Homo sapiens: one gene and its partners. The protein of the gene in region 3 purifies or fractionates together with the protein of the main gene of each other region. This does not show direct contact. Each region holds a gene or a part of one and is shown on either strand. Other genes may lie near its edges.

Region 1 (4,276 bases), on a different chromosome or scaffold from region 3:
TGTTTGAGGGTGCTGGCCAAGGGGCATGGACTGCTCGCCACCCAGGCTTGCTGAGCTTTCAGCACCCACCAGCAGACACACTGTCCCTTGGGGGAGGCAGGGACACACACACACACTCTTTGTTACAGACGCAGGAGCAGGCACGACCACCCAGCGTGCATTACTGTGGCATGGCTCCCCCTACCTCCAGAGAAGCAGATCTGCCTGAGTTACCCCTAGAGGCTCCTGAGGGTCCCCCGGTCCCCTCTCTGGAAGAGGAGCAAGGAGTGCTTTGCCAGTTTGGCCCTTAGTTCATATTTAGAGCTGTTGGCTTTTCAGCTCAACCAGCCTAGATGCCCGCATCCCACAATGTGGCCTCCAGGCTGGCCCCAGAGCATTCAGCACACCCTTCTGCCCCCTGACACCCTGCTCGGCTTGTCTGAAACAGGTCTCAGAGTGGCCTGGTACACATCTGGAGCCTGCAGACGCGGAGAGCGGTTACCACCCTGGATGGCCACGGCGGCCAGTGTGTGACCTGGCTGCAGACGCTGCCCCAGGGGCGCCAGCTCCTCAGGTGGGTCTCCAAGGTGCAGGAGCCAGGTATGGCCTTCGGGGGAGTCAGGAACTCTCTGATGGAGGCTCTGGTGTCCCCCACTGAGGGGCAGAATGGGGTGGGGGAACCAGAAGGGGCCAGCAAAGGGTCCGCAGCAAGGGCAGGGTGTGCAGGTCCAGCCCCTTGTCACAGGGAGGCAGGCAGGTCTGCCTCTGCATCTCCACCATCTCCACTGGACCCTTCATGCTCCAAGCTGGAGCCAGGAGGTGCCAGGTGAGGAGGCCAGAGCTCCAGGGCTGGTGACATCTGAGGTGAGCCCAGGCGCAAGTTGGTGGGAGGGCCTTCACAAGGGCACTGGGTCGTGGCTTGGGAAACTGGGCAGGGGTGAGGGCATTTGCTGAGAGGAGGGGAATGGGATGAAGTACAGGCTCAGGGATGCAGGCAGTGGTCCCAAGGAGGGCCTCCCTGCCCACTGCCCATCCTGCCTGGGCCGTGTGCCATGAGCATGGCAGGTCACACACGGTGCCGGTGGAGGCCCTAGGAGCTGGGTGTTCCGGCAGCTGAGCCCTGGCCGTGTGTGTCCCTTCACTAGGTTATGACAATGCACCTGACTCTTCCCAAGAGGACCCAGCCCCTGATGTTGTGCCACATACGGCTATGTGGCTGGCAAGATGGTGGCTGAGTGGCCAGGGGCGGGGCGCAGGGCTTGGGTGTATAGTGCTGTCCCACAGCAGTGTGCTTCTGCGTTTCTGAAGTGGGCGTGGTAGTGAGGGCCATCTCCCCACCTGGTCCCCCCTGCAGTGTCTCCTGTGGTTTCTACCCCTGCAGTCTCCTCCCTCAGGGCCCCGAGCTCACGTGTGTGTTCTGTACCCTACGCATCACTTGGGGATTACTTGTCCAGACTGTACCCCAGCAGGAAGGGTCCACAGAGGTGGCCTGTCCCCATTGGTATTCAGACCCCACTGTTCTAGCCTGTGCTTAGCACAAGGGCAGGTTTCTGGGTGCCCCCATGGTTCATGAGGCCTTAGCCCATCCCGAGACAGTGTGACCCTACCCTCCGTGACTGCTGTGCTGTCTGGCCAGGTGCCTGCTGGGAAGAGCCTAGTGAACGTATGGCGATGGCTGTGTCCCCATTGCAGTGTCAGCCTGTGCCTTCAGCAGAGCTCGCCCTGGCCAGGGGTCCGCATTGAGCCCAGGCCCCTCCTCAGATGAGCTTCTGCCTCTATCCCATGGGCCCAGGTCCCAGTCACCACAGCCCCTCTACAACTTGGCCTCCTGTGGCTGTCGCACCATCCTCCTGCATGGGTGGCAGAGCCTCATCCTGAGGTTACCCAGCTCACAGGGCCCTGCTTCACACGCTGGTGCAGCTGCTGGGTAAGCAGGAGGTGGCGGAGGAATAAGAGGGCCTGGCAGTCCTGGTGGGGGAGACCCCACGTGCTGCGGCCCTGGAGGGCCTGCCTCTGAGTGTGGTGAAGGACAGTGGGGCTGGGTGCTGGGCAGCTGGCAGCAGAGCAGGGAGGGGCAGCCCCCGAGGGTTAGCCCAGGGCTGGGTTCTGACATCGCCCCCGTGGTCTTGTGGAGGTGATGGGGCTGAGACACCAGGCCGGAGGTAGGCCAGGAAGCAGCAGACAGGGGCAGGTGCGTGAGGGGCTTCTCTGTTTCCCATGGGGAGTGGGAGGGACAGGGCATGGTGGGACAGGGAAGGCCTGCAGGGGGCTGACAACAAGTCCTCCTTTGGGCTGCCTGGATGCTGGAGCAGGCTATTGTCCTTGATCAGAGTGACATCTGCCCCTGTGTGGGGATCGCTGCCACCAGCCCAGGAATCCTGAGCACGGGCCTGCTGCTGTCCTGGGATTTGCCTTGCGTCATATTCAGGGAACTCCGTGCCATCACCATCACAGCCCAGAACTCCAGAAGGACAGGCCTGTTCTCCTGCTCTGGACTCGGTGCCTGGTTCATGGCACTGTGGAGTATAGTCCCTGGAGAATGAGGCCTGTCTGGCCCCCACCAGTCTGCAAAACATGTCTGTGCTAGACTCACGCGGTGCCTACCACCTGGGAGATGGCTGCAGGTGACGAAGGCACCAGGGTTGTCCTGAAGAGCAGAGGCCCTGAGCCTGTGTGCTTGCAGAGCCCCGTGTGGTCATGCCTGCATCCTGGCCAAGCCGACCCAGATCCCTCACCACTGGTGCAGGGGGCCTCAGAGTGGGTTTGGTCTTTGATTGTCAGAGTAGACTTCATTTCTAGAACCCCACCAGGCCATGTGCATCAGGAGCTGCTGTTTGTAAGTGTCCTCCTGAGTTTTCAGCCACAATGTAGCCCTTGGTGGTCCCTTGCGTAGGTGCCTTGTGGTATCAGGCTGTCCTGCAGACAGGAGCTGTGCCAGGCCTGGTGGGCGGTCTGGGAGCTGACGTTCGAGGGCACCTCCCCTTCCTGCTGGGATGGTGCTGTAGTGGCTGCTTCCCAGGCAGAGCCAGCCACGGGTCAGGGGGTCTGTGGACAGAAACTGCAGGTGTGGAGTGCCAGGTGCGTCTGCACTGTACTAGAGCCTGTGGGCCGCCACCCGGCCTGTGCTCAGCTGTGTTTGGAAGCCAAGTCTCTCCAAGTGGCCCTTGAAGGAAGTGATGGCTTTCATGTTGATGGGAGGTGGGAGGACGCCCTCAGCCTCCCGCATGCCAAGGACACACCTGTGCCTTCGACAGCCACCTCGGCAGGGTGTTTTTTAATCTTTTTTCTTGTGAAGTATAATGTACTCACAGAAGAGTGCAAGACAAGTGTTCAGAGCATTGTATTACGGCTGAGTGAGCACCTGAGCAACCACCTTCCAGTCAAGAAGTAGAGCGCAGGGCCCCCGAGCCTCTGAATCCCTGAGCTGCTGCCACCTGCTCTCCCTGGAGATAGCCCCTCATGCCCCAGGAGGTAGCCCCTCACGCCTCATTTTTGCTATATTTATGAATGTATGTCTCTGAAAAGCATAGACTATTTTGTCTGCTTTTTTCTTTGGAAGCGTGGAGACATAAGGAGCAGCATCTGTGTGTGACTTCTCTCACTCAACTTTATCTCCGTGAGCTCCGTGTGTTGCATGTAGCTGCAGTCAGCTGTCGCTGTTTTCTTTTTCTTACGTTTTTTTTTCTTTTTTTGAGACAAAGTCTTGCTCTGTTGCCAGGCTGGAGTGCAGTGGCATGATCTTGGCTCACTGCAACCTCCGACTCCCTGGTTCAAGTGATTCTCCTGCCTCAGCCTCCCGAGTAGCTGGGATAAGAGGCATGTGCCGTTACGTCCAGCCAATTTTTGTATTTTTACTAGAGATGGGGTTTCACCATGTTGGCCAGGATGATCTCCTGACTTCATAATCTGCCCACCTTGGCGTCCCAAAGTGCTGGGATTACAGGCATGAGCCACTGTGCCTGGCCCCTAATGGTGTCTTTAATGAACAAAGTTACTCATTTTAATGGAGTTGATTCAAGTCTGCCAGGCTTTCCCCTTATGGAGAGTGCCTTTGTGTCTTGCCGGGAGTTCCTGCACCGAGGTCCGAGAGACCTCTCTCCATGTCTCCCAGGAACTTTACTGTTGTCCCTTGTAGATCCATGGTTCAGCTGGAATTCACTACGGTGTGCAGTGAAGGCCCTGGGTTTCCATGTGGGTACCCAGCGGTCCCGCCTTCCCCCACCTCAGTGCCCCTTGGATGGGGTGGGAAGGGGGTGCCAGGCAGTCAAAGAAGCAGGGTTGGGGGGGTGGTGTGGCA
Region 2 (4,276 bases), on a different chromosome or scaffold from region 3:
CCATCTATCTATCTGATACACATCTAATCAGAAACCATGAGTTCACATTCTTCCTGCCAATTCCAATCCAACACCACAGATTTTCTCCCTTTCCATATTTTAACTCCTTTCTCTTAACAGTGAGAAACCTGGGTCCCATTATGCTTAATATATGCACTTCTTTGATCAGTTCCTCTGTAGGTAGCTAATCCTCATTACTGCCACTGCCCTTTACCCTTCATGAGTGCCTCTTTTACCCTGCGTGTGTCACCCCACATCAGACTGCCAGCCGACATGGATGCTCTCCACATCCCCCTCGGCTCTGACATGCTGCACCACACCTTCCCACTTCTGCAAGGATGTCTTCCTCACCCTGCCTGGGCTCTGACAGTGTCCCCCAGACCTCTCTGGCTCACCCTACTCCACCCGTTGTAGATATCTGCCCTCTTCTGCTGCACCTAATGGCTTTAGGATTGAGTTTTTCAGGAAGGGAAGAGGAAGAGCTACCCTCTGTTTCTTGACTTGAACTGAGCTTGGTTGTTAGAAGTAAGGGAAGTGTGGAATCCAGTAACTGCTGATATGTGGAGGCCTGACCTCCTAATGTCTACTCTCAAGACTTCCTACGAGAGAAGTTTTTTTGTTTTGTTTTGTTTTGTTTTGTTTTTGAATTATGGTCTTGCTCTGTCACCCAGACTGGAGTGCAGTGGCTCCATCACAGCTCACTGTAGCCTCAACCTCCTGGGCTCAAGTGATCTTCCTACTTCAGCCTACCAAGTAGCTGGGACTACAGGCATGCAGCACCCCGCCTGGCTAATTTTTAATTTATTTTTTGTAGAGATTGGGTCTCACTATGTTTCCCAGGCTGGTTTCGAACTCCTGGGCTCAAGCAATACTTCTGCCTCAGCCTCCCACAGTGCTGGGATTACAGGTGCAGTCACTGTGCTTGGCCAAAAGAAGCTTTTTGATGTAGATGAAATCAGGTGAGAAAGCAAGGCCTGCAGGCAAGAGGACCACTGGCCATCAGAATAGGGTATATATAGTATGCTCTGTCAGAGGTCTGGAGCATTTTAGGGTTGCAGAAGACATCGATATTACTCTCTGAGGCTGCCTTATGAATTAATTGGATTTGTAGGCCCAGAATCTGGGGATCCAGGCTTGGCCAGGTGGGCATAGCCCAATAGGATAGTAGTAATAACATTAGGATAATATATATTAGGCTGTTATATGCCAGGCACTGGTCTTAGTGCTTTACATGTGTTGTCTCATTTTGTTCTCACTTAAGGAGTAGGTGCTATTGTTATTGTCATTTTACAGATGAGGAATTGAAGAACACAGCATGCCCAAGGTGCCATGGGTAGTAAGTGGTAAAGCTAGGATTCAAACTTGGAAGCCCTCCTTACTCATCATGCTTAATTGCTTATAGTATTTGGTAGACAGGATTGACTGACTGTATATACTACGCATATTCTGTGCACACTGTAGAACATTAGGACTTTCAGAAGTCTTTACACTTTTTTATGGGGTTAGAGAAGAGTCTAAGTCCTTGAGGGACTTTGGATCCAAACTAGAATGGGTAATTTGAGCAGACTGGTGTCTTCCATCTCATTAAGGCTTCCAGTACTATTCAGGAATAGGCGATGAGAAGATTCTGGCTTTCAAAGGGATATTGGCCCTCTTGCCCTTCCAGGAGACTCCATATTGAAACTCAAGCCAGCGTTTGTCTACCTGGGCTGAGTTTTGGCTGTATTTTTGGTGAGGCTATAAAGCAGTGGTGAAAACAAGTGCTGTGCTTGTGCAGGATCCATGAAGAACTTAAAATATTTTTTGGTCTTAGCTCCACTGAATCCCCCTGAAATCTCATTATAGGGATAGGGAAATTGAGGACCTACACTAGCGTATATCCTACTATATATATAGGCAAGTTACTGTAGCTCATTCAGTGAGTCAGGAGAGAGATGGGAAGACAGCCATACTTGGCATTATCTGCTTCTGTTCAGGTGGTAGTGGCCTCATTGCCTTTGAGTACGCGCTGGACTTCACAGGGTGCTATCCCTCTACCCTATGTGAAGGGAGCCAGGTGCCCACTTGCAGCCATCAGAGGCAAGCCTTTGGTTGTGTTGGAATGAGGCTTCGGAAAGCACAAACTATGGCCATTACTGTATTGTACAGTGAGATTTCTTATTTGAGGATTAAAGTTGAGAGAAATTTGAATGTTGAGTATTAAAGGGAGAAAGACAACATTTCTGCTTTGTTCCTTTTTTCTTTTTAAGGAAGTTTGAGTTATTCGTGAGTAAAACTTAGGCTTTGATTTTTGTATTTAGTTAGGCCTCTGAGGAGCAGGCATTCTGCAAATTTAAGGGGAAAACTTAAAGGAAAAGTGATTTGATTTTTTTTTTTTTTTTTTTGCACATGTTCACTCAGAAAACTTTACTAGACTTTTAGCCATGTTCCTATTACTGCCACATCTGGGTTTTCTTTTTCTTCCCTATTTAAAAAGTCCCGCAGTCATTCAGGGCCTCGAGTAGAGACCGAGTCTAAGGCAGCAAATGAGAAGGCCTAAGGCTGCAGCCAGCTGTGCTCTCCAGGCACTGTTCATTCCCCCAGGGTGCCACTTACTAGTGTGGGGGTTGGGGGATCACCAGAATGTCAGAGCAAACCCCTGTGATTCGCTTTGTTTGCCTTCACCTTGGGAGAGGGGAGGAGGGTATGTGGAGACATCAAGATACAGACTGGAAAGCCAGGGGCAAATGGCTCCTAGTGGAGCTGAGAAAAGAACCTTGGACATTTTCTGCTGCTTGTCTGAGTCTACTTAGCTTCCAGGACTCATTGTACAACAGGGTCACCTCACGTTACTTTGGACCCATAGCTTTAATGTTAACTGTTGCCACCTGAGAAGTGACTGCACAATTTTTCTCTCTTCTCTCTTTTGAACTTTAGAGCTCCATTTAAAGATGCAGGCCAGTGTTGCATGTTGTTTTGAGAATGATCTGGGAGACTCAGAGCTGTAATAATGCTGCAGGTGCTGCTATTAGGGTCTTGAACTTTAGTAACGAATACTATGATTTAGAAAAGGGGCCCAGAAACACTGGGGAGTGGCCCATGTTGCGTGGATATTCCTGAAGACTAGATGGAACAGGGCCACAGTGGGAGGGAGTAACCCAGGCTCTCTGTTCTTTTTTTTTTTTTCTTTCTTTTCTTTTTTTTTTTTTTTTTTAAACTTTCCTCCCCTAAGTTTTAGATGCTTCTGGATGTTCAATGCTAGCACCTTTACAGACTGGAGCAGCTCGATTTTCTTCGTATTTACTTTCAAGAGCAAGAAAAGTGCTGGGCTCCCACTTATTTTCTCCCTGTGGTGTTCCGGAGTTCTGCTCCATATCCACCAGAAAGCTGGCGGCCCACGGCTTTGGCGCATCCATGGCGGCAATGGTGTCCTTCCCTCCCCAGAGGTATCACTACTTTTTAGTGCTGGACTTTGAGGCCACGTGCGACAAGCCACAGATTCATCCTCAGGTAACTGTTCCATCATTGCTTTAGAAAAGGTGGGGGGGGCAAGGAGGGAGGGAGGATAGTTTTGCTTCCTGGGACACAAAGGAGCTTTCTCATGCCTTCCTGTCTTTTAGCTACTCATTTAGAGTTCCTGTCTAGGAAGCAGGACTTGTTTCAGGTATGCTAGTGTAAGGTAGACCTGAGAAGTCTCTGGAGAGAACTGGGTACATTGTTTCTCTCTAGTCTCAGCTTTTGGGAATCAAAATATTTCCTTCTCCCGTCCTTCCTTTCTCTGTTCTCTTCTTTCCTCCATTCTCCTGCTACTGCCACTTGTTCCTTTAAGGAGTGCTATAGTAGCTGGCCTCCAAGATGACCTCAATGATTCTTAACTCCTGCTATTCACACCCTTGGTAGTTCCCCTCCTGCACTGAATCAAAGATATTCCTGTATAGCTAATAGAATACAGTGGAAGAGATAATGTACGACTTCTGAGGGTAAGTTATAAAAAGTATTGCAGTCCACTTTGCTCTTTTGGACCACTTGCTCTGGGGGAAGCCAGCTGTCATGCTGCCAGGACACTCAAGCAGCCCTGTGGAGAGGCACATGTGTGTAGGAACTGAGGCTCTTAGCCAAAATCCAGTGCCCAACTTGCCAGTCATGAGAATGAGCTATCTTAGAAGTGAATCTACCAGCCCCGGTCAGGCCTTCAGATGACTGCAGCCCCGGTGGACATGTGACTTCAACCTTAGGAGGGACTTTGAGCCAGACCAGCCAGCTAAGCCACTCTCAAATTCCTGACTCACAGGAACTG
Region 3 (3,181 bases):
AATTTTTGTATTTTTAGTAGAGATGGGGTTTTGCCATGTTGGCCAGGCTGGTCTTGAACTTCTGGCCTGCAGTGATCTGCCCACCTCAGCCTCCCAAAGTGCTGGGATTACAGGCGTGAGCCACGGTGCCCGGCCTGACTTGTTATTATTTAAAAGATTTCAAGCCATAGGGAAGTCCAGCAATAGAGAAGACATAGCTGGGCCTTATTTCAGAGAATTTCTCCTGAGAGGCTGGCTGGATTCAAATCAGTGCACAGCTTTTTAGCTCTGTGACGATGAGCACGTTGCTTGAACTTTCTTTGTTGTAGGTGTCCATTTATTAATATGGGTTCATGCCTAGTATTTCCCTTTACAATTGTTGTAAAGGTTCAAACAATGAAAATGATTAAAAGGAGACTGGCACAGACTCAACCTTAAGCAATTGCTAGTAATATTGAAGGGAATTAACCACTTGTCTTTCTTACTTCTTATGTTAAGTTTTTCTTTTTCTTTTTCTTTTCTTTCTTTTCTTTTCTTTTTTTTTTTTTTTTTTTTTTTTTTTTTTTTTTGAGAGGGAGTTTCACTCTTGTTGCCCAGGATGGAGTGCAAAAATGGTGCGATCTCGGCTCACCGCAAACTCCGCCTTCAGTGATCTCGCTTCTGGGGGCATCCCATATTTTCCAAACTGCCATCCTATAGTGGGGTGCCCGTCGAGGCTGTGGGGAGACCCCGGAGAGATTTATGCAAAGGAGGACCCAGACAAATGTGCCCATTCAGCCTCTCAAGAGTGAAGAATGGAAGAGAGGGGGGCAGAGCCCTGTGTCTTCCGTGTTGCTGTGCGCAGGAGAAACATGGCCAAAGGACTGAGGTGGGGTGACAGGGACAGGCAATGCTAGAGATCCGAAGGTCACATCCTCGGCCTGTCCTTTGCACACTACTCCCTTGCTAGGCTCCCTGCTCCCGCCAATCTAGACAGTGGCGCAAGAGACTGGGGTTGCACTGGGACTCCAGGAAAGGCTTAGCTGTTGACGAAGGACCGGGGCGGGGCCGGGGGGCGGGGCGAAGGCCAGGATCTCCAGGTACCCGGAACCCCAAGGGGCGGGTGTAGCAGGCAATCTTGGCGAAACTGGGAAGGGCGGGCAGGAGGGCAGGGAAGCCGCTCACCCAGGCACAAAGCGCCTCCCGCTTGAGCGGACTCCAAAGGGACGGTCCGCGGTGTGCAGCGAGCTGCGCTCAGGGGACCTTGCGCCCGGCCCTTCTGCTGCACACAGCCCACCCAGGACCTCCCGCAGCGCTGACAGGCGGGGCGGGTGCAAAGACGGGGCGGGGTCTCTGCGCCCGGCCCCCTCCCCTGACTATCAAAGCAGCGGCCGGCTGTTGGGGTCCACCACGCCTTCCACCTGCCCCACTGCTTCTTCGCTTCTCTCTTGGAAAGTCCAGTCTCTCCTCGGCTTGCAATGGACCCCAACTGCTCCTGCGCCGCTGGTAAGGAACGCCGGGTTCCGTGCCTGGGGATGCTCGATTCCCAGACACCATAGAGAGTGTTCCTGGGTTTGAGAAGGTCGTATTTTGAGATCTCAACTGTAGGGGACTCCTTGACTTAGTCCAGTGCTTTCCTCTTGGCCAAGATCCTGAGAGCATTTCCTTCCTCTCTGTGCCTCTGTGTCAGCGTTGAGGGTACTGAGGCTCAAGGCTGTCCTGCTCCACGTCATGCGGTTTGTCCCAGGGCTGTTGGCTGAGCCCCAGTGCTCTGACCAGGCTTTGAGCAGCAGGATTAGATAGGAGGCAGGGGACATTGCCTCTTCGGGGTTCAGGACAGAAAGTCGAAGTCGCCGTCTTCCCAGGCTGTGCCTGGAGCCTGGGACTTTCCTTTGGAGTGCAAACAGGAGGCTGCTTGGCCTTCCCAGCATGAAGGGAGAGGACATGGGGCTTCTCTTCCTCTGCTCTGAGTGGGAAAGGAGCTCTGAGGGCTGGCCCCGCACAGAGGAGGGGGCAATGGAGACTCATTAACTCACTGCTGTACCTCCTGCAGGTCACTCGCCGCTCACTGGCTTTTTTTTCTCTTTCTCGCAGGTGTCTCCTGCACCTGCGCTGGTTCCTGCAAGTGCAAAGAGTGCAAATGCACCTCCTGCAAGAAGAGTGAGTGTGAGGCCATCTCCATGGTCTGGGGCTGTGGCTAAGGTTGGGATGGAACCCAAGGCTGGCCCTGAGTGCATGCTTCTGGGGAACTGGCCTTCCTTTGTCCCCGTAGGTTGTCACTGCCTTTCTAGTCTTCTGCCCTGTGCAGGGCGCCTGGGCAGCTTTCTCATAGGAAGACCCACCCCAGATATTTCCCAGTTGTCTCCTGACAAAGCCATACCCTCCTGAACTGAGGGTCCTTTGTGGCTGGAGGCTCTGTTGGGGGCCTCTGTTGGGGAGGGAGGTCCCTGGGCAAGTTGGCTGTGACCTCTCATGCTCCTCTTCTTCCCCAGGCTGCTGCTCCTGCTGCCCCGTGGGCTGTAGCAAGTGTGCCCAGGGCTGTGTTTGCAAAGGGGCGTCAGAGAAGTGCAGCTGCTGCGACTGATGCCAGGACAACCTTTCTCCCAGATGTAAACAGAGAGACATGTACAAACCTGGATTTTTTTTTTATACCACCTTGACCCATTTGCTACATTCCTTTTCCTGTGAAATATGTGAGTGATAATTAAACACTTTAGACCTGATTCTGACTTCAGTTTCCCTTATGTGCTTCAGAAATCAGAGACTGGGGTGGGGGATCGAACTAGGGTTGCAGACTCCTGGGCTCTAAATGGAAATCTGAGTCCCTAACAATCAGAGTGCATTAAGGCAAGCCAGGCTGCCTCACTGTGCTTCCTCTTCTGTAGAATGGAATAACACTTCATCAGGTCATTGGTGGGGATCCAGAATACAGGATCACCTTCATTCTCAAATGTGGCACAGAAACTTCTCAATGCCTCCTGTTCCTTCTCTGATTTCTCTGCCCAACTTCAATTCCTCTTTGGATTTCAGGTTAGAAAGTGACTACACGGAATGGAATCAAACCCCTTAGTTATTTGAATTCTACACCGGGCTTCTCAAACTCCAGGGTGAAGGAGGGGTTTTTAATTCCTATCCATTCCACATCTAAACCTTGGTAAATGAAATAATACTAATGATGGAAGTCATGAAATTAAATTCAATATACAAAATCTGGCCGAGCAGG

What was found.
Region 1: the proteins of MT1F (region 3) and GNB1L purify together in Homo sapiens (affinity purification with mass spectrometry; one large-scale study listed by BioGRID and IntAct). This does not show direct contact.
Region 2: the proteins of MT1F (region 3) and ERI3 purify together in Homo sapiens (affinity purification with mass spectrometry; one large-scale study listed by BioGRID and IntAct). This does not show direct contact.

Annotation. Positions count from the first base shown.
Region 1 is NC_000022.11:19,816,875-19,821,150, reverse strand, and holds part of GNB1L (guanine nucleotide-binding protein subunit beta-like protein 1), read left to right. Parts: intron 1-427; coding exon 428-553; intron 554-4,276. UniProt on the Homo sapiens protein: Acts as a critical regulator of DNA damage response (DDR) signaling via specifically regulating phosphatidylinositol 3-kinase-related protein kinase (PIKK) family proteins.
Region 2 is NC_000001.11:44,338,258-44,342,533, reverse strand, and holds part of ERI3 (ERI1 exoribonuclease 3), read left to right. Parts: intron 1-3,211; coding exon 3,212-3,489; intron 3,490-4,276.
Region 3 is NC_000016.10:56,656,623-56,659,803, forward strand, and holds MT1F (metallothionein-1F), read left to right. Parts: upstream 1-1,336; 5' UTR 1,337-1,436; coding exon 1,437-1,464; intron 1,465-2,052; coding exon 2,053-2,118; coding exon of another isoform or gene 2,119-2,159; exon of another isoform or gene 2,160-2,160; intron 2,161-2,450; coding exon 2,451-2,542; 3' UTR 2,543-2,681; downstream 2,682-3,181. UniProt on the Homo sapiens protein: Metallothioneins have a high content of cysteine residues that bind various heavy metals; these proteins are transcriptionally regulated by both heavy metals and glucocorticoids.